Regions from separate parts of the Homo sapiens genome. Here regions 1 and 2 are each linked to region 3. Evidence: fine-mapped QTL for protein levels in blood plasma. A gene starts in region 3. Each other region holds a variant in brackets. All regions are shown on one strand. Distances are from middle to middle.

Region 1 (10,348 bases), 530 kb before region 3:
TCAAAAACAAAAGTAGGCTCCATGCAGTGGCAGTTAAAGAAGGGGAAGTTCTGGTGTCTCCAGAGTTAGCCGATGGGCACAACGGCAGTTGAAAGAGACCATGTTACACAAGTCATTCAGGTTCTGGCCAACATCTGCTTTGAACAGGTCGCATTCCCAGGAGCTCCAGGCTCCCTTACCCCAGGGAAATGCTGGGGTGGTGGCTTGTCTTACAGAAGTGGTAGCCAAGGGGACCAGAAGGCACACCCGGTGCTAAAACATGCCTAAAACTTCCTCTAATGTTTACAGCTCTTCCAATGACATTTGGGGAACTAAAGTATGGATAGCCTCTTCATTGCTAGAACCGCTATAATATGATAAGTTAAGAATTTGATTTAATATTTATAAAGAACTTAGAAAGAGCCCAGCGCATAGTAAGGGCTATGTAAGTGTTTGGTAAATAAAAAAAGGCACCTCCCAGATTGGCTGGGTGAAGTCTCAATCTGGTGAGAAGGGAGAGAATCAAAATACACAACAGTCTATTTTTCACTTTGACAAAAGATTTAGAAATTACAGTGCTCTGTATTTATTTTGCACCCAAGTGCACACTAAGTAGTCTCTGGTGCAGGACTGAAATTCTACTCATGGTTCAGAAGTCACTGTGCACAACTCAATGAAAGCGTTTTAAGTTTCAAGAGATGATTCCTTTCTCTTTTCTCTTTCCAAGTAACGATGACTAAAAATGACAGAATCTAAAAATCTCAAAGCACTTCTTGTGGGTACATTCCAAAGCTAAAACTGTGAGAATTAATAGGGCCAGATTCACTTGAAGAGACGTAAGGGTTCAAATTACAGAGAACTTAAAAGACGCAACGTATTAAGGTCTTTTACTACAGATCCGCTGACAACAGGTTAAACGATTCCATCCACCCCACTCTGGCGGCTGCCCCCTCCCCGACCCTCGCAGGTGACCTGCACCCACTTTCGACCTCAGATAGGGTCTCCCTGCTCGGCGTTCCCAGTTCCTCCAGGCTCGGCGGCTGCGTGGGGGTTAACAAGGTCCAGCCACCGACGCCCCTTGGGCGTTTAGGAATCTCGAGGCAGGATCTGAATTCACCTCGTGGAAACAAAGACCACAAACTCTCCGGGAGCCGGGGGCTGGGCGGAGGTACGGCTTTTTCCGAGGACAGGCAGCGGCCGAGGCCCGGGCAGCCCTCGCCCCGCCCCGTCTCCTCCCGCCCCGGGCCGCCGTCGGAGTCCCGGGCGCGCGGACCCTCCCGCCGGCCCCGCACCTACCTGGCCCCGCGGTGCTGCTCCCGGCGCGGCGGGCGCGGAGCCGAACGCACTGCGCTTCCTCCTTCCCGGCAGGGCCGCCGGGCGCCGGCGTTTCCTCCTTGACGCGTCACGGCCGCTGGCGGCTCCTCCCGCGGAGCGCGCGGGAGGCCGAGGACAGCCGGGGAAGGCGCCGGATCCCAGCAGAGCGGCGCGAGCGGCGGGCCGGGGGCAGCCCGTGCGGGGAGGGGCTGCAGGCTGCGTCCCGCTCAGGCCTCCGAGGAAACCCGCGCTCCTCTCTCTTCCCCGAGGACCCCCGCGAAAGGCCGGGCCACGGTGCACCGTCTGCCCCCGTCACGCGCTGTGCAAAGTTCAAGAGGACACAGTGGGTCCTGTCTGGAGTCACAGACTCTGGTGTTTCCCTCTGCTCCGCCCGCAGTGGCCGCTACCCTGGGGCCCAAGACCGGCGCGGGCCAGAGCGCCGGGGCCCAACAGAGATGACCTGGTGTGTGCAGGGATCAGGACCCCCCGGGTGGGCCCGTGGTGTTGGGGGGGTTGGCTTGGTGTAAACTGGAAACTCAGAGGAGTGAATTAAATATCCAAATAATTGAGAACAACTGTGATTCATTTAGCATTATTTGGACAGTTTTCCACTTTTGTCATTAGCAGAGTTACGGCCCTTGTGTTTATAAACAGTCGAGAACTTTCACAAATTGGCAGATCCTGTGTGCAGAGAAATTTCCTTTCCACACATCTTTTTAGATCTACTGACTCTTTTTTTTATTCCCATTAATCTCCAAGTCAGCTGAGTGCACACTTTACAGCTCCTTATTACTCATTCTTGAATTACAGAAGCTGCGTTTTAGATCTGTTTATCTCTTTTAACAGATAGAGAAGCTGAGTGGAGAACTAAGAATTACATGGTTCAATGGATGTGGAGTCAAGTGGTTAAGATTTTGAAGTAGAGTGGGTTGTTTTCTTCGTCCCACAACACTACTGTAATTTAGGTCTTATCAGATATCACTTGAAGATAGACTCAGACAAGTACTTAAAGATTCCCATGTGCATATCATGCCTTAGATTTTGAGACAATGATTTGTACTTTAGATCATATGATTCCAGAGAATTTGCCACAAATCTATGAACAAATAAACTGCCAAAGGTTATTAGAGGAACTGGGATCTATGTGTGACTTCCCTAAATTCAGAAGACATTTCCTCATGTTTTAAAATGATATTCAAAGATTTAGCCCCACAAGTATGGGTTAGGACATTCATTTTTAATGTCAATAACCACAATGTGGCCTCTCTTTAAAAAGTGGATTGTGAATCCAAATACTTTTTGTACTTCAGTAATCCTACAGAACTTTCTAAACAGTAGTTTTCAGAAATGAATATAAGAATGCAGTAGATACAAAACAATACATTGCCGGTGGTCCTTTATATGTTTTACTGTGGTCCACAAAGCAATCCACATACATTAGAGGAGTTCTTCCCTTGTAACAAAATCAACAAGTGATGAGTGTATCTCTTAATTAAAGCCATATTCACAGTGCTGAAGATTTCTCAGACAAAAGGAAGTTCTGTGTCAATAAACTCCAAGTGGAATAACATCATTCTCACTTTAGAGACAAATACCTGGCTATCACCACATCTTGACTTTTTAAAAAAATAAACATCTGGGAACCATTACATTTCTAGATAAATTTGTCCTATTGTGAAGAACACACACACACACACACACACACACACACACACACACACACACAGAGATCACCTCCCACAAACATTTTATGTATTTTCTTTTTTTTTTTGAGACGAGACGGTCTCACTGTGTTGCCCAGGCTGGGTTCATTTGATCAACAGACAACATGTTAGGCATTTTGCCTTTACAATCTGAGAGCTGCAATTTAATAGCTAGATTTTGCAAAAAGCTAGAGGAGGTAAATATATTCACAAACTACTAAGGACTTTTTCACTGTAATTAAATTAGTTTTTTTTTTTTTTTTTTTTTTTGAGATGGAGTCTCACTTTTGTTGCCCAGGCTGGAGTGCAATGGCACAATCTCAGGTCATTCCAACCTCCTCCAACTTCCGGTTTCAAGCGATTCTCCTGCGTCAGCCTCCCGAGTAGCTGTGATTACAGGTGCCTGCCACCACGCCCAGCTAATGTTTTGTATCTTTAGTAGAGACAGATTTTCGCCATGTTGGCCAGGATGGTCTTGAACGCCTGACCTCAGGTGAGCCACCCGCCTTGGCCTCCCAAAGTGCTGGGATTACAGGCGTGAGCCACCATGCCCAGTCTAAAATTGGTTTTAAGGGCAAATTTTAAGGCTGATCACTTTGTTGTTGTTGTTGTTGTTGTTTTGGTTTTTTTTTTTTTTTTTGAGACAGGGTCTCACTCTGTCACCCAGACTGGAGTGCAGTGG[C/T]GTGATCTCGGCTGACCGCAACCTCTGCCTCCCAGGCTCAAGCAATTCTCCTGCCTCAGCCTCCCCAGTAGCTGGGATTACAAGTGTGCGCCACCACGCCCGGCTAATTTTTGTATTTTTAGTAGAGACAGGGTTTCACCATGTTGGCCAGGCTGGTCTTGAACTCCTGACCTCAAATGATCCACCTGCTTCAGCCTCCCAAAGTGCTGGGATTACAGGCTTCAGCCACCGCACCTGGCTAAGGCTGATCACTTTGATTAATTGTGTTCACCTATTGATAGAGATATAGGTTATATCCCCATTTTCTGTTATGTTTCCAAGTTTAGACTGTAAAAAAAAAAGTTGTTGAATGTTCAGCTAAATGTCTAGCTGATGTTTATACCTTTATGAAATATTTCATGTAAATAAATTTTAAAAATAGAGCTTTTTATCAGACTATGGGTCCCAATACTTTCTTTGAAAATATGATTCTGTTCATTCAGATAGAGCAAATATTTTGTTCATCTGTTTTATCTATAGTGTAGAGATTTTGAACACAAGCTTTGGAATTGGACAGACCCAGGTTTAACTCCTGGTTTGCCACTTCCTACTTTGGGCAAATTGTTTCACTTCTCTGAGCACCGGTTTCATCAGTAACCTGGGGATAATAGTGCTTTTTCCTCTTCAGTAAAACGGAGATAATAGTGCTAATCTCATGAAATTGCTATGAGGATCAAATGAATTTAGTAGAATGCCTGGAACATAATACCAAGTGACTGCTATCTTCATCATTATTAGCTCTAAAACATATATTAAAATGCCAATATTATATATGTTTTATTTGTAATAGTATTAAAATGGCCAGATTTTAGAAATTTTGGCGGTGGCTCACGCCTGTAATCCCAGCACTTTGGGAGGTCAAGCCGGATGGATCACGAGGTCAGGAGTTTGAGATCAGCCTGGCCAACATAATGAAACCCCGTGTCTACTAAAAATACAAAAAATTAGCCAGGTGTGGTGGTGGGCACCTGTAATCCCAGCTACTTGGGAGGCTGAGGCAGGAGAATCACTTGAACCTGGGAGGTGGAGGTAGCAGTGAGCTGAGATCACGCCATTGCACTCCAGCCCCGGGCGACAGTGTGAGATTCCGTCTCAAAAAACAAACAAAAAAACCCCAACTACCCAGCCACATAATGTGGTTATTACGATTATTTTAGATCATATATTCCAATGAAATGAATGCTTGGTTTTCATCCTCCACTATTCAAAATGGGAAACCTTTTCTCTAAAATGGTGCCTTATGTGGAAGCATTATTACTTTTTTATATCATAATAAAGCCCTCTATTATTTGTAGTTCTTTTATCAGAACCTTGGAAGAAGTGAGGGGCATAAAAATACAAGAAATACCACTTCCATTAGTGAGGGCTGGTATTCATTAGAATGCTTGTTTTTTGCCAGGCACCGTGGCTCATGCCTGTAATCCCAGCACTTTGGGAGGCTGAGGCAGGCAGATCACCTGAGGTCAGGAGTTCAAGACCAGCCCTGCCAACATGGTGAAATCTTGTAGCTACTAAAATACAAAATTAGCCAGATGTGGTGGTGGGTGCCTGTAACCCCAGCTACTCAGGAGGCTGAGGCAGGAGAATCGCTTGAACCCGGGAGGCGGAGGTTGCAGTGAGCCGAGATCTCACCACTGCACTCCAGCCTGGGCAACAAAGCGAAACTCCAGCAAAAAAAAAAAAAAAAAAAAGGAATACTTGTTTTATAGCAGATAAAATATTAAGTCTAGAGAGGTAAGAATAATCCTACCAACTATATGCTTACAAAAGCAAAATACTTTTTTTGGTTTGTTTTGTTTTTTGAGACAGGATTTCATTCTGTCACCCACCAGGCTGGAGTGCAGTGGCGTGAGCTCGGCTCACTGCAGCCTCGACTCCCTGCTTTCAAGCCATCCTCCCACCTCCTGAGTTGTTGGAACTACAGGCTTGCGCCACCACCTCAACAAATTTTTAAAATTTTTTGGAGTCAGGGTCCCACTATATTGCCCAGGCTGGTCTTGAACTCCTGGCATCAAGTGATCTTCCTATCTCGGCCTTGAAAAATGCTAGGATTACAGGTGTGAGCCACCTCGCCCAGCCTCGCAAAGGATGGTTTTGATTCATATTATTTGCATTGCTTTTAGGGTATCTTTTCCCTCATTCTGCTGAAGACTCACATGCTTAAGTGGGTCAGACACCATAAGTTGTTGCTATAGTTTCTAGCTATGTTTATCAGCTGACATTCTAATCACAACATCCCACAGTATCAAATAAAAGAAAACCATTTTTGTGGAGAAGATAGTTAAAAACATAATCCTAACTATGAATTGGCTCAGATTGTAATAATTAAAAGGAAAACCTTGCTGTAAAAATGGGTAAAAATATGGGGAAACAAAAGTGACTAATTTATTAAATTTTCTTTTTTTTTTTTTTTTGAGATGGAATTTTGCTGTGTCACCCAGGCTGGAGTGCAGTGGTGTGATCTCGGCTCACTGCAGCCTCCATCTCCTGGATTCAAGCAATTCTCCTGCCTCAGCCTCCCAGGTAGCTGGGACTACAAGCACACACCACCACACCTGGCTAATTTTTGTATTTTTAGTGGAGACAGGATTTCACCATATTGGCCAGGCTGATCTTGAACTCCTGACCTCAACTCATCCGCCCACCTCAGCTTCCTGAAGTGTTGAGATTACAGGTGTGAGCCACCGAGCCTGGCCTAAATTTTCTTTTTTTTTTTTTTAAATTTCTCTCTCTCTCTCTCTTTTTTTTTTTTTTTTTTGACTGGGTCTCACTTTTTTTTTTAGAGACAGGGTCTCACTCTGTTGCGCAGGTTGGAGTGCAGTGACACAACCATGGCTCACTGCAGCCTCAACCTCCAAGGCTCAAGCACTCCTCCCACCTCAGCCTCCCAAGTAGCACCACAGGTGCACACCAACACGCCTGGCTAATTTTTTATTTTTGTAGAGACAGGGTCTCCCTATGTTGCCCAGGCTGGTCTCAAACCGCTGGCCTCAAGTCATCCTCCTACCTTTGCCTCCCAAAGTGCTGGGATTACTGGTGTGTGCCACCATGCCCAGCTGACTAATTTATTAAATTTTCTGAGCAAAACAATTTAATAAAACATAAAGCAACCCAAGATACAGTTAGAAAAACTCAGGCCAGTAGTGGTGGCTTACGCCTATAATCCCAGCAGTTTGGGAGGCCGACATGGGAGGATCCATTAATCCTAGGAGTTTGAGACCATCCTGGGTACCAAAGTGAGACCCCTCCCCTTGTCTCTATAAAAAAAAATTAGCTGAGTATGGTGGTGCACACCTGTAGTCCCAACTACTTGGGAGGCTGAGGTGGGAGGATCACTTAAGCTTAGGAGGTCAAGCCTGTAGTGAGCTATGATTGCCCCACTGCAGTCCAGCATGGGCAACAGAGGGAGACCCTCTGTTTAAAAACAACTGGCCGGGCACGGTGGCTCACGCCTTAATCCCAGCACTGTGGGAGGCCTAGGTGGGCGGATCACGAGGTCAGGAGATTGAGACCATCCTGGCTAACATGGTGAAACCCCGTCTCTACTAAAAATACAAAAAAATTAGCCGGGTGTGGTGGCGGGCACCTGTAGTTCCAGCTACTCTTGAGGCTGAGGCAGGAGAATGGCGTGAACCTGGGAGGTGGAGCTTGCAGTAAGCCAAGATCGTGCCACTGCACTCCAGCCTGGGCAACAGAGCGAGACTCCATCTCAAAACAAAAAACAAAACAAAAAAAAACAACCAAAAAAACCCTCAGTGGCCGAGCACGCTGGCTTACACCTGTAATCCCAGCACTTTGGGAGGTCATGGCAGGCGGATCACCTGAGGTCAGGAGTTTGAGACCAGCCTGACCAATATGATGAAACCCCGTCTCTACTAAAAATACAAAAATTAGGCTGGGCGTGGTGGCTCACGCCTCTAATCCCAGCACTTTGGGAGGCCAAGGCAGGTGGATCACAAGGTCAGGAGATCGAGACCACGGTGAAACCCCGTCTCTACTAAAAAATACAAAAAAATTAGTCGGGCGCCGTGGCAGGCGCCTGTAGTCCCAGCTACTCGGGAGGCTGAGGCAGGAGAATGGCGTGAACCCGGGAGGTGGAGCTTGCAGTGAGCCGAGATTGCGCCACTGCACCCCAGCCTGGGAGACAAAGCAAGACTCCGTCTCAAAAAAAAAAAAAAAAAGTACAAAAATTAGTCGGCATGGTGGCATGTGCCTGTAATCCCAGCTACTTGGGAGGCTGAGACAGGAAAATCGCTTGAACCCGGGAGGCGGAGGTTGCAGTGAGCTGAGATTGAGCCATTGCACTCCAGCCTGGGCAACAAGAGCAAAACTCCGTCTGAAAAACAAAAACAAAAAAACCCCTCAGTTGGCCAGGTGCAGTGGCTCATACCTGTAATCCCAGCACTTTGGGAGGCCAAGGCGAGAGGATCACTTGAGGTCAGGAGTTCGAGACCAGCCTGGCCAACATAGTGAAACCCTGTCTCTACTAAAAATACAAAAATTAGCTGAGCGTGATGGTGCACCTGTAATCCCAGCTACTTGGGAGGCTAAGGCAAGAGAATCACTTGAACCCGGGAGGGGGCGGTTGCAGTGAGTCAAGATTGCGCCACTGCACTCCAACTTGGGGGACAGAGCAAGCCTCTGTCTCAAAAAAAAAAAAAAAAAAAAAAAAAAAAGGGCCGGGCGCGGTGGCTCACGCCTGTAATCCCAGCACTTTGGGAGGCTGAGGCGGGCAGATCACGAGGTCAGGAGATCAAGACCATCCTGGCCAACACAGTGAAACCCCGTCTCTACTAAAAATACAAAAATTAGCCAGGCACGGTGGCTCATGCCTGTAATCCCAGCACTTTGGGAGGCCGAGGCGGGCGGATCACGAGGTCAGGAGATCAAGACCATCCTGGCTAACACAGTGAAACCCCGTCTTTACTAAAAATACAAAAATTAGCCGGGCGTGGTGGCAGGCGCCTGTAGTCCCAGGTACTTGGGAGGCTGAGCCAGGAGAATGGTGTGAACTCGGGAGGTGGAGCTTGCAGTGAGCTGAGATCGCGCCACTGCACTCCAGCCTGGGTGACAGAGTGAGACTCCTTCTCAAAAAAAAAAAAAAAAACCCTCAGATACACATGGGAACTGAAATTGAGAGCAATTAACGCCTCTTTAGCACAGAGCAGAATTAACTTGTTTCTATGATTTGAAAAGGGTTCAGCATGTGTTCATTTTGTGGGGTAGGGTATAGGTGGGAGGCCCAAAGCTGAACGTCATTTCTTGGGCCAAATTAGCCAATTCAAACTCAAAACTGAAATGCTTGAAGTTCAAGTATGTTTCATAACAGGTAGGAAACTCTATTTTAAAACAAGACTACATTAGGATCAAATATAAGGCTTTTCAGATCACAGGACTTTCTCATTTTCTGTATTAGACTCATGAGAAAAATCAAGGGGAAGTGTTAGGAGATCAGAACACTTAAACTGCTAGCATCAGCTTTTTGATAAAAAGTAGCTAGAAATTATTTTAAATTTCCCTAAGACCATTAATTATCTAAAATAATATTATTATACTTTCCTATTAGGGAAATCTCATTGTCTTCCAATCTTGTTTTTATGAATGTCAAGAATAAAATATAAATCATTCATTTTTCTCTTTTTTTCTGTATCTCATTTAGTCTATTATGTACATAAAATAAAAGTCTGTTAATAGTTGACAATAATTTATTTACATAAGTCGTGTCAGCAGTTTCTACGTCCAGGGGATCATATTAGGGTAGGTGGACTAAACCTGCTAGGTGGACTTTGAAGATAACTATTATTTTAGTTGCTTATCAGTGGGGAATAATAGCTTTTCTTAAACACTGTTCATTTGGTGACTCAGTTATTTACTTCTATTATGTGCAATTAATGATTGAACCTATTTCAAATGCAAGGGCTTAATAGCTTCTGGCATAAAGAGGTGCATTGCTGTTATTTCCTTAACAAATTCTCTAAGGAATCTGTGTCTGGCCCAGCCAGATGTGTCAAAGACTTAAGTAGACCTTAAGGAATTATAACTCTTCATACGCAAGAAGACTCTTAAATTCCCCTGAGTTTTCTAAGATAAACAACCCCAGCTCTTTTAACTTTTTCTGTCATTTTAAAAAATATTTTATGACTCTCATAGGAGTTTTTCCCAAATTCTCCATGTTTTCTTTAGATTTTAGAGGAGATGCCCAGTATGAGACATGGAACTCTATAAAGGATCAAGTGAGTCCTTAGTATCATGGAGTGCAGTGGTGCGATCTCAGCTCACTTCAACCTCCACCTCCTGGGTTCAAGCAATTCTCCTGCCTCAGCCTCGCAAGTAGCTGGGAATACAGGCACCTGCCACCATATCCAGCTAATTTTTGTATTTTTAATAGACGCAGGGTTTCACTATGGTGGCCAGGCTGGCCTCAAACTCCTGACCTCAGGTGATCCGCCTACCTTGGCCTCCCAAAATGCTGGGGGTACAGACGTGAGCCACCGCACCTGGCCAGTTGACACTCTTTTTTTTTTTTTTTTTTTTTTGAGACGGAGTCTCGCTCTGTCGCCCAGGCCGGACTGCGGACTGCAGTGGCGCAATCTCGGCTCACTGCAAGCTCCGCTTCCCGGATTCACGCCAT
Region 2 (10,909 bases), 41 kb before region 3:
AGACTCAATGTTGTTTTTGCTGTTGGGTTTTGGACTTATTTGGAACTAGTTGCCCCTCTCTTTTTTCCTAGTTCTCCCTCTTGCAATGGGAATGTCTATCCTAGGCCTGTCCCACTATTATATTTTGGAAGCGTGTAACTTGTTAATTTCACAGACTGTCAGCTAAAGAGAAATTTGCCTTGGAATTAATCATGCCTTGAGTCTCATCCATATCTGATTCAGATGAGACACTGGACTTTGGACTTATGATGTTGGAACAAGTTAAGATTTTGGGGTTATGAAGATGGAATGAGTATATTTTGCATGTGAGAAGCACATAAGGGGGAGGGGGTAGAATGCTGTGGTTTGAATGTGTCTCCTGCATAATTTAGGTATTGAAACTTAATGGCTAATTGTGATAGTATTAAGAGGTAGGACCTTTAAGGGGTGATTAGGTCATGAGGGCTCTGTCCTCACGAATAGATTAATGTTGTTGTGGGAGTGGGTTTGTTATAAAATTAAGGTTGGCCTTCTTTTGTGCTCTCTTGCCATTTGATGCCTTTTGCCATGCTACGACATAATGAGAAGGCCCTTACCAGATGTCATGCCTTGATCTCGGACTTCCTAGCCTCCAGAACTGCAAGCCAAATAAATTTCTGTTCATTATAAATTACCTAGTCTGTGGTATTCTAATCTAATAGCATAAAATAGACTAAGATACTACATTTTGTTTGAGATGGAGTTTCACTGCATTGCCCAGGCTGAAGTGCAGTGGGCGTGATCTTGGCTCACTGCAACCTCCGCCTCCCAGGCTCAAGTGATTCTCGTGCCTCAGCCTCCCAAGTAGTTGGGATTACTGGCACATGCCACCATGCCCAGCTAATTTTTGTATTTTTAGTAGAGACGGGGTTTTGCTATGTTGGCCAGGCTGGTCTTGAACTCCTGACCTCAAGGGATCCACCCGCCTCAGCCTCCCAAAGTGCTGTGATTACACGCATGAGTCACTGTATCAGGCCTAAAAAATATCACATTTTAGTAGGCGCTGCAATATGTGGTAGTGGGACAGGCTCTCTCAAAAAATACTAATTTATTGATGATGATGTGATTTGGTAGCATCTGAAATCAGGTCATCTTCAATTGAAATTGAAAATGGCATTGAAATCATGTTAACAGGACTAACAATTTTGGTCAGGCGCAGTGGCTCACACTTGTAATCCCAGCACTTTGGGAGGCTGAGGCGGGTGGATCACCTGAGGTCGAGAGTTCGAGACCAGCCTGACCAACATGGAGAAACCCCATCTCTACTAAAAATACAAAATTTGCCGGGCATGGTGGCACATGCCTGTAACCCCAGCTATCGGGAGGCTGAGGTAGGAGAATCGCTTGAACCCAGGAGGCGGGGATTGCGGTGAGCCAAGATTGTGCCATTACACTCCAGCCTGGGCAACAACAGCAAAACTCTGTCTCAAAAACAACAACAACAACAACAACAACAAACAAATAAAAAACCCCAAAACTATCAATTTTAACAGTCTGGAACAATATTTTTGGAACATTTTTAAGTTAAGCAGAATGAATATGATTCAAAAAACTCATTGTACCTGTACAGAATGAGGAAGATACAATTTAATAGCTGCCTGTGTGAAAAAGGATTTAGTGGCATTAATTGCTTATATGTTTTTGGAGTCAATAGCATGATGTCATTGCATCAACAGAAGTACAGTGTGTGGGGAAAGAGAGGTGATAGCTTGTTTCCACATCGCACAAGTCATAATATGCCTGGAGGATGTGCTCAGTTCAAGATGTGTCACATTAAAAGGGATATTAGAAACCTGAAATGCATCTGGGTGAGACTGTCTGAGGATATCTGGGAATGAGGCATTTGAGAAACAGTTGAAATTGGGCATTTAACCTGGAAACTAAAATGACATACAGTATAATGCAAGGACTGACCCAGACACTGGAAGGAACATCATGTGTATGATAAGAGTAGGCTTGTACTGTGAGATTTCTGAGTGTGAACTAGAATCAGTAGAAGTGAAAATTAGAGACAGATTCAAGCACACTCTAAGGCGTTTGCGGGGAGATGGAGGAACAGAACTGGGCTTGGAATTGAATTCCAGTTGTGTGACATTGAGCAAATCACTTAGTCACTCTGAATCTCAGGCTCCCCTTTTATGAAACAGAAAAAAAAATTCTCCCTCCCTGAGTGAGATAATATTTGATAATACATGGCCAAGTGTGGCAAAGAGTGCTGATTCTATTACTTTTGAAAGCAGCATTATAAAACTAGAGCAGTCTAACCACAAAATTGGCTATCTCGGGAAGCAGTGAGGTCCCTGTCACTGGAGGCATGCAAGTCTAGGACAATTAACCCCTTAGGAATTGAGGGTGAGAATCTTGCACAGGTTTTACTGCTAAATAGGAGGTCAATGTACAATGAACATGATTTATTGGGTCCCTTCCAATTTTAAGAGTCTCTGCAGACTGGCATCACCATTCTCTTTCCCTGGCTATTAAAAATGCAGGTGGAAAAATTGCTTCATTCAACTGTAAGGCTATTCACCTCTCTGCCCAAGATAGGAAGGCAGAAATGACTTTATTTTGAGCATTTCATTCCCAACTCCCTAATTGAACCACCTTCCTTTGAATTCTAAAATGGTATCATTTCCATTTTATAAGGTTATCAAGGGCATGTATTTCTTCAAAAATGGCACCATACAGAGTAGCTTCCTATGTGATCTGATTTGAGGAGGGCCAAGGGAGATTCAATTGCACCAAATTATTTTTTTCCCATTGGTCCTGCTATACATCTTAAAATCCCTCTATTCTCTATTGTTGTAATTTTTTTATATATAGCTATCAAAATGTGAATGTTATCTAGGTTTTATCTATCTTTAACATCATAGCCAGACTTAGTCTGGGCATTAGTGTATTATTGAGGTGCTCATGAAAATGCACTGCTGAGTTCTGCTGTAGGGAGCATCACTGGCTGATGCCCCCAGCAGTTAACACTCTGGATTGTCCACTGTGTTTGCCCCTATGCCACATTTCCTGTGGACTGCTCCCAGCTAGTGACTGACCATGGTGGTGGTATTACTACTGGTCCATTCCTGAGAGATGCAAGACTCCTCCGACACACGACTCTGATTCAAGGGCTCCGCATCAGCTGGCTGAGCTTTTCTAGGAACTGTGCTGCAGTCCCAGACTCTTCCTATCCAGTCCCCTCCCTCCCGGTCTCCTTCGCAGGAATTCAACCTGCATTGTGGCCTGAAGGCTCTGCCTGCCTCTTCCTGCTCCCTCCCCTTTATCCTTCACAGGCACTTCCTCCAACAAGCCTCTTGCATACTTAACCCCCGGAGGGCCCAAACTAACACAAGTGATGTCAGGAGTTGGGTGAAAAGACAGGTGGTAAAACGAGGTTGTGAGATGGGCTTACTCACAGCCTGGAAGGCAAAGGGGGCACCATCCTGTGTGATAGATAGAAAATGAGTGATCTCTGGCACAGAGTGAAGGCCCAAATACTAAACTTTTTACCCATGGTAACCTGGAAAACTCCCCAGTGATGAGAGCCACCTTGCAGGAGTAATGATTCAGGAGTTTGAAAATTGTAGGGGCAGGGGGAGATGTCTGCAAGATCAGTGGGGTTGGCTGGTTACTACTCATTTGCCTGATGCCCTGCAGAGGATGAGATGGGAGCCTTTCTAGTGAGAAGCTGAGGCCTTGACAAGCAGTTAAAGGCTAAATGTGAGAGCCAGAGGTTCTCTTTGGCAGTGAACAAAGAGACCCCCATCTCCTGCAGTTGACACTGGACACAGCTGAGCAGCGTCTATCAGTTAGACAGTTACTTAGAATTGCAGAGCAGGTCCATTATGCTAAGGTCAGGGCCCTGGATGAGAAAACCTGGGGCCCTGGAATATGGAAGGGAGACATCTAAGTGGAGGTCTCTGAAGACTGCCCCAAATCCTCTGAGTTTGCCAAGGCAACCTACCCTTTCTTAGAACAAGCTAGTGCTTCCCCTCTGTGGGAGAGGCTGCAGAGACCTCTCCTCCACAGGTCAACAGGAGCTGCTCCCATGTCCTCACCTGGCTGCCAGGTGAACATCAGGTTAAATCCCAGCATTATCTGGCTGAGAACTTGCTGGGCTTGAGAAGGAGGAAAGAGATTATACACTGAAGAGGCTTCAGGACTTGCTAGAATATAGCTGCTATCAGAGGAGTACTCCTGGAAATAGATTTTGAGGGTGCTGGATCAAAGGGGCTGGAGTGTATGATTAACAAAACTCATTTTCTTGGGCACCTTTGTTGAGACATGGGATTGAATACTAGTGACCACCCTGGGGGATGAGGCAAATTCATTGCTAGAGTGGCTCATAGAAACCTGGAAAGAGTGATGGCCCTTGCTGAGCAAAGTGAAAATACAAGAGTTTCCTCGGCAGACAGTAGAGGAAGGCATAAAAAAGCGCAGGCAAGTAGGTATGCTAGAGTGGGTGTGTTATGCAAGACCAGGAGACCGATCAGAGGATTATATTCCCAGAGAGGGCCCAGATGACACGGTGGTCACCATGTCTGTTGGGAAATCTGAGTCTACAGGGCTTGTTGATGGTGCTCTTCTGAGGTAGGGGATGATAATATAAATCACAGAAGTAGATTTTTGGGCAGTGGCCAATGGCTTGGACATCTGGTAAGGGGAGAACTGGGAGACTGGAGACAAGGAGGTCTGGGCTACAGGCATGGGAATGGATGTACTGATGTGGGAACACATTTGTATCACATAGTAGCATGCACCAGAAAGCATTTACCTGGTTACTTGGTTACTTGAATAACCAAGTAGACAAAGTGGCTCAGCCAGATGAGGTTAGCAGCCTTTGCCATCAGCCACCATAACTGGCAGAAAGGGCACATGCACGGAGGGAAGGAGATGGAAGTTGAGTTTGGGCCCAGAAGCAGGGAGTCCCAATTAGCATGGGAGTTACTGCTGCCTGAGTGTGCAACCTGTCAGCCACAGACAATACACTGAACCCCTGTTATGGTAATATTCCTTGAGGGGACAGATAGCCTCTTGTGGCAAGCCAACTACATTGAGCCCCTCCTATCCCGAAGGGTTGGCAACTTATTATCACAGGAATAGACACCTGTTCTGGACATGGTTTGCCTCTCCATGTCAGCCCCTCAGCTAGCACGATCACTGGACTTACAGAATATCCTATTCACAGGTATGGGCTCACACACAATATAACACCTGACCAGGGAACTAGCTGTGGGTACAGGAGTGGTCCCATGACCATGTATCACACATCCAATCCAGAAGCAGCCAGCCTTGTGGAGGACTGGAATGGCCTCCTAAAGGCATAGCTCAAAAGCCAGCTTGGAGGCAGCATTCGGAGAGTGGGAGCCATCCTCCAGGCTGTAGCCATGCATACGTTAAATCAGAGGCCTATATATGCCACTGTGTTCCTTATGGAAGAATGCATGGGTCTGGAACCAAGAGGTGAAAGCAGGAGTGACTCTACTTATCACTCCTAAAGGTACACAGGGATTTTATGATTCCTTTTCTCACAATTGGGAGTTCCCAGTGGGGGGTGTTCTCTTGCAAGAGGGCACAACAAGGGTCCCATTGCACTATAAGCTAAGATTGCCACAAAGGCACTTTGGACTCCTTGTGTTGAAGGACCAGCTGGTGGGAAGAGGGCTCACCATCCTGCTGGGCGTCACTGCCCCTGTCAGCAGGAGGAGGTAGGGTGCTTCTATACAATGGGGACA[G/A]GGAAGAATTTGCATAACCCAGAACCCAGGGCATCCACTTGGATACCTACTAATACTCCTGTGCCCCATTTCGACTGTGAATGGACACATGTCACAGCCCTGTCCTCTGAGCCCTGCCTAGGTGATAGCTGAGGATGAGGGACTTTTGAACGGACAGTGGAGGAGGCAGAGGATGAGAACCAGATGTGGTCCCAGGACTAACAAGAAGCACTGTAGTTCGTATTCCTAACCTCTCTCATCTAAATCTCTCCTCAGGAAGAGTGACCTATGGGATCCATGGAGGAGCTGCTTCCTGAATCTGTGTAAAGTAGATCTTGCCGTGTGGGTAACTGTGACTGCGGTGGCCATGAAGAGGCACAACTCAGACCTCGGATCTCCTGCTGCAGAGAACATTGACTGACAGCCCAGCAGCTCCTGTCTGGATCTACCACCTGTTCACAGTGAGGCCAACATCCCCCAGGCTGCTCCCAGCCCAGGGCTGAGCATGGCATGGTCCTAATGCTCTTAAAGACCTCTAGATCTCTCTAGAGATGTAGGACTCTTCCAACAGGCAACTTTGGCTCAGGGCTCCCCATCAGCTGGCCTAACCTTTCTAGGAACTGTGCTGTGGCTAACGGTCTCCCAGCCCATCCCTGCCCTTTTCTCTCTCCTTCACAGGGGCCAGACCTGCATTTCCACCTGCAGGATCTCCTTGCCTGCTCCTGCTCCCTCCCCTTTCCTTAACATGGGCTCCCCAGTAAATCATTTACATGTTTAATCCTGACTCTGCATCTGCTTCTCCAAGGACCCAAACTAACTCATGTACAGTAGAAAATGATTGACTTTTGACTTGGTCCTGGATTCATATCTTGTCTCTGTCGCTTATTAACAACATAAACTTCCATCACTCAACCCCTCCTTATTTTCCTCATCAATTAAAATATTTCTTACTCCTAAAGTTATGGTGAATATTGGAAGAGTTAATTTTTGAAGAGCACCTGTGATGTGCCTCCTAGAACAGGGACAGTTTGTTCCTTTCTCATCATTATCCTTTAGCAGTGATGGAATGGGACTCTATGCTGGTGAGTTTTGATAAGAGATTGCAAGGAAGTGAGAGAGGAAGAATATCAGCTGCAGCACATGACAAGTCTGCCTCCTGGGTCAGGTTCCCCTGACAGCGTTGGTGCCTGGGGCATAAAGATGCTGGGTGCCAGGGAAGGGAAGGATGGGGCACTGGAGGGAGACCAAATTCAATCATTTTAAGTCCAGTCCCCAGTTCTGTGCAATTCTTAGTGTAAAGTTTTTAAAAAGAACATTAAAGACAGTTACAAAGCCGAGAAATGGTCCTGTCTCTCTGAGCAGCGCTGGCCATGCTTAACCCACCACCCCCGTCACCCGCACCCACCCCTGTCTCAGGGCCCTTCAGTGTCACACACAAAGGGGCCTCACCTCTGATTCACATTCTGAGGAGAGCAAGTTCATGGATCAAAGAACATGACTAATGGCCGTGGAACTTTCTGAAGAGCCCGGAACATTTAATTATTATGAACAATTTAGTTCACTTCAAGTGGTTTACCTAAGCTCCACATACTTCAGCATTTGCTTAGCAACATGAAATAAAGCTTTCTCTGGGGTTCCCAACGTTTGGACTGGGCCCTCTCCCAGCACCAGCTGGCCTGTCTGCAGAAGGTTCACTCTGTGTGAATTTCCTGACTGGAGTGTGAATTTCCTCACAAGGGACAAGGGGAGGGAAGGAAAGAAGTGGACAGAACTTTAGTTGTTCTCTGTGACAACGGACTTAAAAAAGTCGAAAGGGGGCTTTGAGTCCCTGCTCTCACTAGGCTGATGTGAGCATTAAACTAAACGTGAGAACACATTTAAAGCACAGAGAAACTGCCTGGCATTTCAGTGCTTAATAAATGCTTATGGTTATTGTTTTTAAAAAGCAATATCCTCTTTTCCCTATTGCCCTTCCTCCTCCCTATAACACTCCCTTCTTCCCACCTACCTCATCTTACCTGACCCCTTTGCTTCCTTCTTGAAGTCTTTCTGACTCGATGGAGACTACATCAACAGTTCTTCGCTTAGCGCTGTTAGAACTTGGCATTTCCAGCCTCACGGGGCCCACACACATTTTGTCTTGTATTGTGCTCCAAGCACACATCTTATCTTGCTCGAGGAGAAAGGGAAACCAGGAAAGTAATGATTGGCACATGGGATGAGGAGCTGGAATGACTGGGGTTCCACCATTTACCAGCTATGCAACTAAGCAAGTGACTTATTCTTTCTCAGCCTCAGTTTCTTATCCGTAAGATGGGAAACTACAATTAACCTCATATATTTGTTGTGAAAATCTGGAGATGACTATACAAAGCACCTGGTACATAACATGGATGTATTTTATTATTGATTTATTATTTAATTTCTCTTTGTATCTGCCAGAGAATATTGCAGAAAGGATACATTATTCACCTCATAAATGTTTGGGATAAAAGTGAATTGTGGTTTTGCACCCATTTTTAAGATAAAGATTGCTATGAAACTGGTGTTTCCCATACATTCCTGAGCATAAGAATCTCCTGGAAAATTTGCTTTGGTGGGTCTGGAGTAGGATATTTTAACAGGCACCTTAGGGCATTCTGACATCTGACATTGGGAAAACTGCTGTAAACTCAAATGATGCTTACACCCCTCAATGATTATGTGAGAGTGTCTGTTTTGTGAAAAGGATGGACTTATACAGGTCTCTTAATAACGGACACACTGCTGCCCAATTGATTTGGGCAAAGCAATCACCGTAAAGTGTGAGCATGGTGGAGAAGCCACATCGCCATTTAGGTACAGCTGGGTCAGCCATGAGCAGCTCTAGTCGGCACTGCATCGCTAAGTGGACTCCGGGTGCCTTTTCTTAATTGAATGAAATCTCAGATTTCAATTTATTTCCAGGCTGCATAATGTGATAATTAGAAGCTTAGTTACATCTAATGCCCTGAATGGAGGTCCTAGGATTGTCTCACAACAGTCAAGAGGTCTGGATGGATAATTGCCACCACTTCACAGTAAGAATTGCCAACCTCAGAGCTCTAAGGAGAGAATGCCCATGGAACTGAGGGCTTTGAAAATCCACTCAAGTGTTGCCCCAATGTTAGCATTGTTATCAATGAAGAGATTTTGTCTTTTATGGTGCTGGATTGTCAGGAAGGGGTTTCTTTTATATGGCACGGATTTCCTTTTCATTCATCAGTCCACAGTGAGGTGGTTTTAATGAGGCACAAGCTGGGCTGAGATCAAGATGAAAGCAGAAAGATCAAGGGCCAACGAGGAAGAAAAAAGAATACTCAGCCCAGGAGCAGCTTCCATTCTTCAAGGACAATCTTGAAGAAGATTTCCTAGGGGAAGCATTTGCAGTTTTAATAACAGACTTGAAATTGAAGCTCAATCTATTTCTGGGCAATAAAGGAAGTATCTTTAGTGTTATCTGATTTATCTTAGAATTAGATAGATTCAAAATGAATAGACAGCAATCCCTGGAACATTTCACAGGGTGTAACTCAAGCCAAGTAATTCCAGAAAAGCAAGTAGTACTCTATATGCTCAAGCCTCAAAATCAAGTTCAGAAATCCAACAGGCTCGTTTTTGAACTCTTGAATAGAAACTGGAAAGCAAGGATACTGTATTTGGGTTACACATACTACTTTATAGCATACACTATTTGACATCACTCCTTATTAAAAATATTCCTTCATCTCTAAAGCTTAAAGTGAATGGTGTTATCTCCAATAGACACTGGAAAAAAAGTTGGAGAACAAAACCCCCAAATCTGCTCACTATCTTACTTTATAGAAAATGTTTTGAAATATTGATACCTCTCTTTAGATGGTTATACATAAGAGATTTGGTTGTTACTGAAGCATTTCATTTATGCTGAGACAAGTAATACAAATATGTATGAAGGTGACTTGCAAGTTGAGACATTATGTCATGGGGGCTCAAGTAGGGACCAAGTGCCATGAGGTGTCATATTTCCAGACTGGTCTGAGGTCAAGATGCTAAGTGAGTTCATCTAGCTGACTGCCCAGGCCTCCACATCTCATGGTGGTATTCGTGAAGTAAAAGAAAACTGATTTTTCTGTGTTTAAAAAAAAAACACACAAAAGATTTGAAAGGAAAGGTGACCAAGTATTGTTGACAGAAGTAAACAGAAAGTTGAGATCAAAGACAGTTTTAGTTCTTAACTAGAAAACCAAAGTCTGGGGTAAATGAAACAATAGAATGTAAAATTCAGCAGTGACCTGGTCCTATGAATACAAGCAATTCACCATATACTCTCCAAAGAAAGAAATAAAGAAAAAACACTTTGTAAAACAGTTTCAGCTGGTGTCTCAGCTAGTATGAAAATTGCTCATCAAATGAGAGATAAAATTTTAGTGGAAATTGAAAAGAAAATTTGTGTTATAATGAAATACACAAGAAGCCTATGCCTGCACAGAAAACTGATTCGGGTGAAACCCAGAGATTTCCATAACTGAGATCGTGAATATTTGTGAAAAACTAGATACTTGTCTTTCAAATGGATTAAGTATAGGAAGAAACTCACATCTCTCTCTCAATCATCTGTATATCTACCTATCACATATGTATATATGTTTCTTTCATCTATCCATCCATCCAGTCATTCTTTTTTGGAAAAATAAGGGAGATATGGCTGGGCTCGGTGGCTCAAGCCTGTAATCCCAGTACTTAGGGAGGCTGTGGCGGGCGGCTCATGAAGTCAGGAGATCGAGATCATCCTGGCTAACACAGTGAAACCCCATCTCTACTAAAAATACAAAAAAATTAGCCGGACGTGGTGGCGGGCACCTGTAGTCCCAGCTACTCGGGAGGCTGAGGCAGGAGAATGGCGTGAACCTGGGAGGCAGAGCTTGCAGTGAGCCGAGATAACACCACTGCACTCCAGCCTGGGCGACAGAGCAAGACTCTGTCTCAAAAAAAAAAAAAAAAAAAAAAGAGAGATATGTGTATGACATTGTGCTAGGAGGAAGGATATAGACTTTAGGGAATACAGACATGTAATGGAGGAGGACTAAGACACATCACCGTGAAAGAACACTTTTTTTTTTTTTTTTTTTTTTGAGACAGGGCCTTGCTCTGTCACCCAGGCTGGTGTGCAGTGGCGTGATCACTGCTCA
Region 3 (10,800 bases):
TGTGTCTCCAGAGGAAAATGCAGATGAAGAGGCTGTAGGAGGCAGGCAGCTGAGGGAGGAGTCCATCTGCAGAGCCTAGGAGGGGCTCAAGGCTCAGAACCTCCAAGTCTCGCCAAAGACAGGAGTGAGAAAAGGGTCAAAAATACGGAGAATACCTGAAAGTTTATATATGGAAGAGTCAACCTCTCCACCAACTTTTCTCATCCCATGTGAAGAATGCCAGACATTCAAATGTCTGCCTGTTAGGCAACAAGCAAATAAAGAAATAAACATTGCCAGGTATACTGTTATTGGCCTAAATGTGTCTCCTAGATGTAGAAAAATTCACATGTTGAAGTCCTAACTTCTCATATTTCAGAATGTAACTGTATTTGGAAACAGAGCCTTTAAAGAGGTAATTAAGGTTAAATTAGGTCATATGGGTTATCCCTAATACAATATGGCTGATGTCTTTGTAGGCAGAGAAGATGGAAGCAGGGACATGCACAGAGGAAAGGCCGTGTGAAAGCACAGGGAGAAGATGGCCAACCACAAGCCAAGGAGAGAGGCCTGGGAAGAAAGCAACTCTGTTGACACTTTGATCTTGGACTTCTAGCCTCCAGAAGGGAGAAAATAAATTTCTGCTGTTTAAGTTATCCAGTCTGGTATTTGCTATGGCATACTCAGAAAACTAATACATACATTTTTCTTAAATAAAATTGAATGGCTACAGAGAGGAATTCTCTACAATATGACATTCATGGGTATCCCAAGTAAAGACTAGCTCACCATGTGATCACCCTGGAAGGAAGGCTGCTTGGCGAGAAGCAGGCTCCTTACCCTGCATATAGAGTTCTTCATCAACTTTGTACTGAATAATTATTAAACATGAGGGTGCTACCAATCATACACAGGGTCGCCTTCAGGGATTTCACAAAGATCTCCAGCATAAAATTGAGAAATTAAGATAAATAAAGATTTTTAAATGACCACAGATGGAAGAGATAATTCAGGGAAAGAAAGAAAACTTAGAAACCTTCTAGTTAACATTCTTAAAGAAATAGGAGAGAACATTCCACTGTAAAGCAAGAACAGGAGTTATTAAAAAGGAATGGAGAAAGAATAAAAAGTCTGGAGGTTGAATATACAGTTGTAAAATGAAAGTAACTGAAGAGCTGGAAGATATTGAAGAATATCTTAGAAAGCAGAATCGCAAACTAAAAGTTCTAACATGACAGAAAATAGTAAACACAGATGGCCAATAGAGGGGAGAACATCTCATAACAGAAATCCCTAAAAAGAAAGAATAGAGAAAATGGAAAAAATTATAATATAAATAATACAGGAGGTTTTTTTCACCATTGAAGAGTAAGAACCTCAAAATTAAAATGAGTACATGAAAAAAAGACCCAAAGACCATTCTAAAATTTCAGAACATCAACAAAAAAAGAAGAGACTAAAAGCTTCAAGAGAGAATAAGAAAAAAGGTCCTATGAAAAATGAGAATCAGGCTGGGCATGGTGGCTCACTCCTGTAATCCCAGCACTTTGGGAGGCTGAGGTGGGTGGATCACTTGAGGTCATGAGTTCAAGACCAGCCTGGCCAACATGGTGAAACTCCATCTCTACTAAAAATACAAAAATTAGCCAGGCATGGTGGCACATGCCTGTATTCCCAGCTACTTGGGAAGCTGAGGTAGGAGAATCGCTTGAACCTGGGAGGCAGAGATTGCAGTGATTTGAGATCGCACCACTACACTGTCCAGCGTAGGCAGCAGAGTGAGACTCCATGAAAAAAAAAGAAAGAAATAAAAGGAAAATTAGAATGATACTGGATTTCTTATCAGCAGCACTGGATAATACAACACAAGAGAATAATACTTTAAGTTCTAGAAGAGAATTATATTTAACTTGAAATTATATACCTTGGTAAAGCATCACTCAAATATCTGGGTAAAATATAACAATTTTCAGGAATGCAAGGAGTCAGAAAACATGCTTCTCATACATCCTTTCCTAGAAAGTTACCGGAGGATGTTCTCCAGCAAAATAAAATTCAGAAATCAAAAGGGAAAAAGTCCTGTGATTCCGGACAGGGAATTCAATCCAGGGAAGAAGAAAAGAGAAGTCCCAGGAAGAAACCTATGCATCAGATTTAGAAAGTAACTAGTTTGAAAGCAGCAGGTTAGCATGCTCAAGGATCAAGGTCTTAAAAAGAGGGGGAGGACTTAATAGATTACTTATCATGATTGAAAATTTGAAAAAATATGAGAACAAAATTAAGGCAGTTCGTAATTCTAGGAAAAAACCAAACTGGGATTATAAAAAATATAAAAGTGTCAATTGAAAATTGTAGAAAAAAAAACAAGATAGGAAATGTAATCAGAGTCTATGATCTTATTCTTCAGTGAACAACTTTCATAGTCAATAATTAAAAACTATATTGACTTCCTACTTTTAGAATCTATCTATCTATCTATCTATCTATCTATCTATCTATCTATCTATCTATCATCATCTGTCTATCTATATCTATCTAGAGCTTCTTGGCCCTTTGGCTAAGATCAAGTGTAGAATCAATTATAGTAAAAGCATAAAAGCATGGGAGATTTAACTATGATTATAAAAATAATTAACGGACAATCTAGAAGTAGAAGTATAGATGAAAGAGACTGAGAGATCAAGGTGCAGGAGGGTGTCTGAAAAGTTGAAGGGATAAATAATCTCATCTTACAATCTGGGAGTTAAGAGATATTGTTTATATTTGAAGACTCAAGAAATAATTCTGTGGGTATATTACTTAAAAGTGCAAGGGTAAGATGAAAAAGAATAAAAAGCAGGTCATTAGGGCAGTGATCAACAATGAAGAATGAATAGAAAATTTGGCACATATTGATGCAATACCATGCAATAAAAAAAGGATTTCACTTGGATATAGGAAAATGCTTGAGATATAATTTTAAATGGAAAAAAGTAGATTATAAAATTTTAACTATAAAATGTTATTTAGTTATGTCTGGATAATATGTACAGTTTATGGGTAATTTTTATACTTCATTCATTCAACAGATTTTCTGCATTTCATTCATTCAACAGGCTTACTGGAAATCTACCATGTTTGGGGCAAGAGAAATGGATATGGCAACTTACAAAGATGATCAAAGCCCTGCTACACAGTTTACTGTCCAGCAAAGGAGGTACATATTGTACCAGTAACTATAACAAAATGTGAGCTTTACAATGAAGGACATTCATGCTATTAGGAAAATATGAAGCACAGGTGCTGAACCTAATATAGGAATCTGGGGAAGATTTCTTCAACAAATTATTTTGCAATGAATTAATTAATTAATGTAAATTGACAAATAAAAATTGTATATGTTTATGGTGTATGACATGTTTTGATATATGCGTATATTGTGGAATGGCTAAATCAAGTTATCAACATATCCATTACCTCACTTACTTACCAATTTCTGGTGATGAGAACATTTAAAATTTACTCTCTCAATTATTTTAAATGTTAAAATGAGAGTTTTTTTTTTAAGCAGAGATTCAGTATTAAGAACATGGTGTTATCAAAATTATGATTATGAGCTCAGGAAAAATGCTCAAGGGAAACAACAAAATATTAATTATCTGTGATGATCTTTAGATTCAGATATTCTGAGGAATTTTATATTCTTTATGCTTTTCTGATTTTTCTAAGTTTTCTGCAAAGAGCACATATGGCTTTGATAATCAGAAGAGACTAACAGAAGTTATTGTTGCCAGTGAAGCAGTTAGATATTTTGCTGTTTGAGGGCCTTTCCTCAGTCCTCCTGTGGAAGCAGAAGGCAGTTACTTAATCTATCTAAAGAACAGTTACAAACAATTACCAAACCACCTGTCCACCCTAGGCATTTCTGAAGGCTCTCATTGGAAACAGTAGATTCATTTCAACAAATGTTTCTGTTAGCCAACTTGGAGATGGTGTTTGTTCACCACGAGCTGTGCTAATAGAAGCTTGTGAAGGTACAAGGTGATACAAGTGACAAAAATATGCCCACTAGTTACCTATTATTTCTGATATTTCTTTATTAGACTGTTGTGTTGGCTCTGTTTTAATTTACCTATACCGTATATTATGTAGCCATTGAAAAATATGATTTAAAACATGAAGTAATCCCTGTTTTTGTGCCCATGTTTCTTGGATTGTGTTTTTAGGTTCTAAAAGCATTGAAATTGATTCTCCAATGACTCCTTTCCAGAAGTTATTCTTACATGTAAGATCAGATCTGTCAGTGGTGATTTCTATGTATTTGGATATTTAGTTTATAGCACATTTAAGTTATCTGCATTATGTTATTTCTCAAATCATAGATCTATATTATAATTTTAAGAATCCCTTTCACCCTCCATACTGTATCCAAAGATCACTTTTTTCAAAGGTCACCTAGGCAGAATAATCAAATTAATGCTTTTAATTTGGTAATACTGAAAAGTAAATTGCAATGTATGCACACACAGATTGAAAATCAGGTGCCACAGACATGAGCATGCACAGAGAATTTCTGCATTCTCATGCCTTAGTTTATCAAATAAGGAAAATGTATAAAAAGCTACTCCACAATTGGTGTGTGAATATATTACTTTATCTAAATGCATCTTCTCAGGCCAGGCATGGTGATTGATGCCTATAATTCCAACTGCTCAGGAGTCTGAGGATCGCTTGAGTCCTGGAGTTCTAGGCTGCAGTGAGTATCACAGTGCCTTCAGCCTGGGCAAGAAAGTGAGATTCTAGCTCTAAAATATTTTAAAATTCATCTTTTCACCTCAGTTTGTGTGCCTCTGCTGGAAAAGAAAGTCCAAAGGTTATTGTTACATTATGCAAATAATATGGGCTTGCAATCAAAAGAGCTGGTTCCTAATTCTCACTTTACCACTAACTTGCTGAGTGACTTCAGGTAAGTCACTTAACTTCTCTGGTTCTCATTTAAACCAAGTGATCTCTTTAAGTCATTTCTAATGTGAAAACTGCGTGATTTAATGAGATATACATTTTGGATAATGATATGGTTAGATTGTGTCCCCACCCAAATCTCATCTTGAATTGTAGCCCCCATAATTCCCACGTGTTGTGGGAGAGACCTGGTGGGAGGTAACTGAATCATAAGGGTGGGTTGTTCCCATGCTGTTCTTGTGATAGTAAATAAGTCTCATCAGATCTGATGGTTTTAGAAAGGGGAGTTCTCTTTCACATGCTCTCTCTTGCCTGCCACCATGTAAGACGTGTCTTTGCTTCTCCATTGCCTTCTGCCATGATTGTGAGGCCTCCCCTACCATGTGAAAATGTGAGTCCATTAAACTGCTTTCCTTTATAAATTACCCAGTCTCAGGTATGTCTTTATTAGCAGTGTGAGAACAGACAAATACAGATAAATTGTGGCTGTGCATAGCTTCTCTTCCTCTGGGGTTCAGGAACATTTTTTTCCTTACTCCCTAGTTGGAGCCACTTTGGCTCTATTAATGACTTACCCCAAGAAAACCTCACAGCAAGGACTCAACAGTGATGAGGGAGCTATACTAAAACAATATCCCCCAGATAGCCCAATGGGAGAGAGATTTGTATGGGCATGGGTTTAGTCAGAGCCCAAAACTTGTTGTGTCTTCTCTGGAAGAACCTCCCAGACCTCCCCAGCTAAACTCATAACCACATCCCTTTCCTAGTTTATCTTCTGTGTCCATTTACTGCACTGAAACTTCCTATTCCAAGTCAACGTTTCACCTCCAGATTGACATCCAAGCTGAAATCTGCTAACAGGGTCAGAAAACAGTTCATAAAGGAAAGTAAGCAAAAATGTTGAACCCATTCCAGCTTAATAAAAAAAAAAAAAGCCCACAATAACAAAATCTAAGGTTCTGTGTGCTTTCCTACCAATATAAAACACAGCTTTCTCCCAGAAACTCAACCATTTTCCATAATCATGATCTTCTATTAACAACTCACATCTTTCCAAGTAGGCACATTCTCTCTGTTCTCTTATGTCAAAAGTACATAACATGGTGCAGTGATCCAACTATGGGCTGGCTTCTCTGCAAACTGTCAACATTTCTCTCCCTGCCTTCCCTTTGTTCCTAAGAGCAGTTGTGGATTGGTATAGACCCAAAATGGAAGTTGAAATATGCATTGCATCATTTGTCACATTAGCTACAAAGGAAGCAGCAGAAGTAATCAGAAATGAGGAGCAGGAAATTTCCGATAAACAACTCTGATGGTTATCTGGAAGCTGAATTGAATCACAGGCACAAGAACTTGGAATTGCATTTTGAATTGCAGAATTAGAGGTAACTGCCTCCCACCTATATGATAGTGTCAATTAATCAAAAATTGAATATAGTTTTACAGGCTTAGCATTCCATTCCATTCTGCGACATGTCAGAGAGCATTTATTTATTTAACAGGCTGACATGAAGCACATTTGGATTTGGAAAAAGAAATAATTAAAAAGAACCACCCTGGGTGGCCCAGATGTGGATACTATTATGGATGTTGATAGTATTTGGAGGTGAAATGAACGAGTTTTTTTTTACAGACTCAATATTGACCAATGAAAACATGTAACTAATGAATTTAGCCCTGTAGTCAAGCAGTTTAAGCCTTTTTCAACATAGATTAGGAAGTTAGAATGGATGCCTCTCATTGAGTTTGCATTCAGTAGAATAAGTAAAGCTTGTTTAACTCATGCATCTCTCACTGGCCGCCTCTCTCTTTAATTTGGGAATAGAAAAGGGAGTCCACAATTAATTTTAGATTGTGAGAAGAGAGACAAAAAAAGGAGCAGAGAGTTTCTGAGATAACCTAAAATCTTTGCCGCACCCCTTACTAACCCCGGTTTGTGCCCCTTCACTATGGGAGTAGCTCTTGTCATCATCTAAAAAACTTGAACTGCATTTTGAGAGATTTATTGGCCTTGCTTCTGCAGGCTCATAACTCCTTTATGTGCTTGCTCTTGGGAGGAAAAAGCAGATAGACGTTTAAAAGCTGGATGTTCCTGCACACCCCTCTCCTGATGCTTCATTCTTTTCCAGGCAGAAAGATGGTGGGACTCTGTCTCTAGCAAAGGGATATTTCCAGATACTGAGGTGTTGTCAGAGACACCTGGTCAGGGAGGTTAGGAGAAGGGGCATCCAGGTCCACCCCCTCCAACTGGCTGCTGCTTTCCTGGCAGGGCTGCACTGGGACACCTCACTTCCTTCCCACTTCCCCTTCCTCCTCCCATTCGCTGTCTCTTTGCACACCCCTAATATGGCCTTTCATAGTAAGAGGTCAATATGTTTTCACACTTGGGAAATCTCATTCAAGAATTTTTGTCAATGGACAAGTCATAAGAAGCCCTTCCATTTTAGGGCTCGTTGACGTCACCAAGAGGCGATAAATATCTGTTGATATAATTGGATGTGAGATTCAGTGTTGAGATAGCAAAATTCTGCCCCTCGTTCCTTGGCAGGGCCCTATGATTTATGCAGGAGCAGAGGCAGCACGCAATCGAGCTGTCAAGAGAGCGTCAGCTTATTAGGCAAATGCTGCGTGGTTTTTGAAGAGGGTCGACACTATAAAATCCCACTCCAGGCTCTGGAGTGGAGAAACTCAGAGACCAAGTCCATTGAGAGACTGAGGGGAAAGAGAGGAGAGAAAGAAAAAGAGAGTGGGAACAGTAAAGAGAAAGGAAGACAACCTCCAGAGAAAGCCCCCGGAGACGTCTCTCTGCAGAGAGGCGGCAGCACCCGGCTCACCTGCGAAGCGCCTGGGAAGGTAGGGAGCGCCTGGACGGAACACGCCACCAACTTTGCGTTGCCTGAGCTGCCGCGATGTGCGCCGCGGAGCCGGCTGCCCCTGCCTGTGTACGTGTGTATGCATGTGTGTGCGTGCGTGTGTGTGTGTGTATGCATGTGTGTATGCGTATGTGTGTGTGTGTATGCGCGCGTGCGTGCGTGTGTGTGTGCGCGCGTGTTCGCGGACTATTCCTTAAGATTACAATAGTAGCTGGGATGTGGCAAAAGCAAACTTAGACGGCTGCTCTTCGTTACCCGTGCTGCCAGTTGCTCCTTGCTGGCTGTGTAAAGGAGCTCCCCCACCCCCTTCTATCCTAACCCCCGAGATAAGGCAGCAAGGGCAGAAGTGGAGAGGGAGGACCATGAGGCAGTAGTTCTCAATTTGGAAGAAAATGCTGAAATATCCGGAAGGGAGGTAGTCAGCGCGGGTGGGATCTTAAATCTGTGGCTCTTCTCTAGGATCGGGAAAATTAGTTTTGAGGATCGTTAGGAAGAGGACGCAGGGACCGTCCTTTCAGAGTCTAGAAAGAAGGGTCACTCCTGGCCGGTGAGCGCATGAGCTTAGGTGCGGAGCCCTGCAGGCGCCCCCTTTCCCCGCTCCCCAGGCGCTTCAGCACCGCGGACAGCGCCCATCCGAATCACTGAGGCCAAAGCCCAGCACGTCTAAGGCAGTCCCGTAGGAAGACCCCGTGTGCACCTCCCAGCTGAGCGAACTCTAACCAACTCTTTCTTTCTCTCTTCCCCTCTCTCATTCCGCCCTCCGCCCACCTCTGTGCCGCAGCGAGTGCCCCTAACATGCGGCTGCCGCTGCTTGTGTCCGCGGGAGTCCTGCTGGTGGCTCTCCTGCCCTGCCCGCCATGCAGGGCGCTCCTGAGCCGCGGGCCGGTCCCGGGAGCTCGGCAGGCGCCGCAGCACCCTCAGCCCTTGGATTTCTTCCAGCCGCCGCCGCAGTCCGAGCAGCCCCAGCAGCCGCAGGCTCGGCCGGTCCTGCTCCGCATGGGAGAGGAGTACTTCCTCCGCCTGGGGAACCTCAACAAGAGCCCGGCCGCTCCCCTTTCGCCCGCCTCCTCGCTCCTCGCCGGAGGCAGCGGCAGCCGCCCTTCGCCGGAACAGGCGACCGCCAACTTTTTCCGCGTGTTGCTGCAGCAGCTGCTGCTGCCTCGGCGCTCGCTCGACAGCCCCGCGGCTCTCGCGGAGCGCGGCGCTAGGAATGCCCTCGGCGGCCACCAGGAGGCACCGGAGAGAGAAAGGCGGTCCGAGGAGCCTCCCATCTCCCTGGATCTCACCTTCCACCTCCTCCGGGAAGTCTTGGAAATGGCCAGGGCCGAGCAGTTAGCACAGCAAGCTCACAGCAACAGGAAACTCATGGAGATTATTGGGAAATAAAACGGTGCGTTTGGCCAAAAAGAATCTGCATTTAGCACAAAAAAAATTTAAAAAAATACAGTATTCTGTACCATAGCGCTGCTCTTATGCCATTTGTTTATTTTTATATAGCTTGAAACATAGAGGGAGAGAGGGAGAGAGCCTATACCCCTTACTTAGCATGCACAAAGTGTATTCACGTGCAGCAGCAACACAATGTTATTCGTTTTGTCTACGTTTAGTTTCCGTTTCCAGGTGTTTATAGTGGTGTTTTAAAGAGAATGTAGACCTGTGAGAAAACGTTTTGTTTGAAAAAGCAGACAGAAGTCACTCAATTGTTTTTGTTGTGGTCTGAGCCAAAGAGAATGCCATTCTCTTGGGTGGGTAAGACTAAATCTGTAAGCTCTTTGAAACAACTTTCTCTTGTAAACGTTTCAGTAATAAAACATCTTTCCAGTCCTTGGTCAGTTTGGTTGTGTAAGAGAATGTTGAATACTTATATTTTTAATAAAAGTTGCAAAGGTAATCATGACTTTACTGTTTCTCTTCAGTGCTCATACACTGGAAATACTCTCTTAGCTTCCTCCAAATTGTCTTCAGCACCAGAAAAGAAAAGCAAAACTTCCTGCATTATATTTTTCCACTAAAAATGCAAACATATGTCAGTGGCTTACACAGACCCTGCAATCACGTTGGGCTCATCTCTGTGCCATGGACTACTTCTCTGAGGTTGAGTTAATAATTCAGGAAGTTGCTCCCAGCAGCTCTAAAACATGGTAATTCTAAAAGGGAAGATCATTTTATAATGGAAATAACATTTAGCCCTGATCAATTAAAATATATGAAATAATTGGAGATAGTGGGGAAAAGATGAGGAAGAGAGAAGTGTCAAGCTAGAAATTCCTCCAAACTGTATGGCCAAAATGCTGCATTCTTTTTCTATGAGAAAAACTCACTCTGTCAAACTACTACTTTGGTACCATAAAACTATTTTTTCTAAGCTATTTTCCAATGACTACATCTAATAAGAGAAACTTAATAGCATCTCCACTTAAGACGACTAAATTTAGTCATTATAAAATGTCACATAGGAAAATTTTCTTATGAAGAACATTTTGACTTTAATAATTACACAAATATCCTCCACATTTTTGCTTATGTCAACCCTAATCACTTTTATTCTTAGGAACAGGAACTACCTTTGTTCATTTCTAAAACTGAACAGCACATTTAATTAGTTTTACAGTGCATTTGCCTTTGGTAGTTTAGTTATAGCTTTAAACAATTCAATCAAATGTTTAATACTTCAAAATTAATTTGTCTGTATGAAGATGCATCTTATCCTGGGACCCTTGAAATACACTTAACTAATGGATGAATAAGATAATACAGAACATTGAATAAATCATTATAAGACGAAGCTTTTAAAAACATCATTTATTTAAGAGTTCATATAAAGTTACACTTATGTTCTGAAGGAGGCATTATGGTGGGACAAATATTAACAAAGCATGATTTAAATATATATATATTTAATGTGTGATATGTTTGTATATATATTTAAACACATGCAATTGTTCTACAATTTACCAGATTGGTGCCACAGTGAATAAAAGAGAAAGTAGACAGCTTTTGCTGGAAG

Which allele goes with the higher level. Alleles are on the strand shown, and positions count from the first base shown. The strength of an association depends on the size of the effect and on how common the allele is.
For the plasma level of the protein whose gene starts at base 7,602 in region 3, C is the high allele of the variant in region 1 and T is the other (moderate association).
As copies of G replace A in region 2, the plasma level of the protein whose gene starts at base 7,602 in region 3 goes up (moderate association).

What was found. PIP is the posterior inclusion probability: the model's chance that the variant is causal. The UK Biobank Pharma Proteomics Project read protein levels with antibody pairs (Olink). The fine-mapping took linkage between variants from a reference panel, not from the people measured, so its PIPs are less certain.
Region 1: its variant is fine-mapped to the plasma level of the CRH protein (UK Biobank, PIP above 0.99).
Region 2: its variant is fine-mapped to the plasma level of the CRH protein (UK Biobank, PIP above 0.99).

What each region holds. Positions count from the first base shown.
Region 1 is chr8:66,703,761-66,714,108 of GRCh38, reverse strand. The region is part of intron 3 of C8orf44-SGK3 (C8orf44-SGK3 readthrough); the gene reads right to left. SGK3 (serum/glucocorticoid regulated kinase family member 3) reads right to left here and starts at 1,328. Exons shown (of 17, transcript NM_001033578.3): 1 at 1,276-1,328. RefSeq lists a silencer at 1,150-1,619. The variant C/T (reference allele first, on the strand shown) is at 3,679.
Region 2 is chr8:66,216,296-66,227,204 of GRCh38, reverse strand. It overlaps LOC102724687 (a long non-coding RNA gene), which reads left to right. Exons shown (of 5, transcript XR_929013.3): 3 at 5,997-6,181. Among named protein-coding and RNA genes, the nearest start is that of LINC00967, 30 kb to the right of the region's middle. The variant G/A (reference allele first, on the strand shown) is at 5,742.
Region 3 is chr8:66,175,266-66,186,065 of GRCh38, reverse strand. It overlaps CRH (corticotropin releasing hormone), which reads left to right and starts at 7,602. Exons shown (of 2, transcript NM_000756.4): 1 at 7,602-7,773; 2 at 8,575-9,690. The coding sequence starts at 8,589. The coding sequence ends at 9,179. TRIM55 (tripartite motif containing 55) reads right to left here. Exons shown (of 10, transcript NM_184085.2): 10 at 10,581-10,800. It overlaps LOC112268029 (a long non-coding RNA gene), which reads left to right. Exons shown (of 4, transcript XR_002956713.2): 2 at 3,075-3,175; 3 at 4,185-4,243; 4 at 6,106-6,180. LOC124901954 (a long non-coding RNA gene) reads right to left here and starts at 550. Exons shown (of 2, transcript XR_007060948.1): 1 at 1-550. RefSeq lists an enhancer at 8,647-8,716.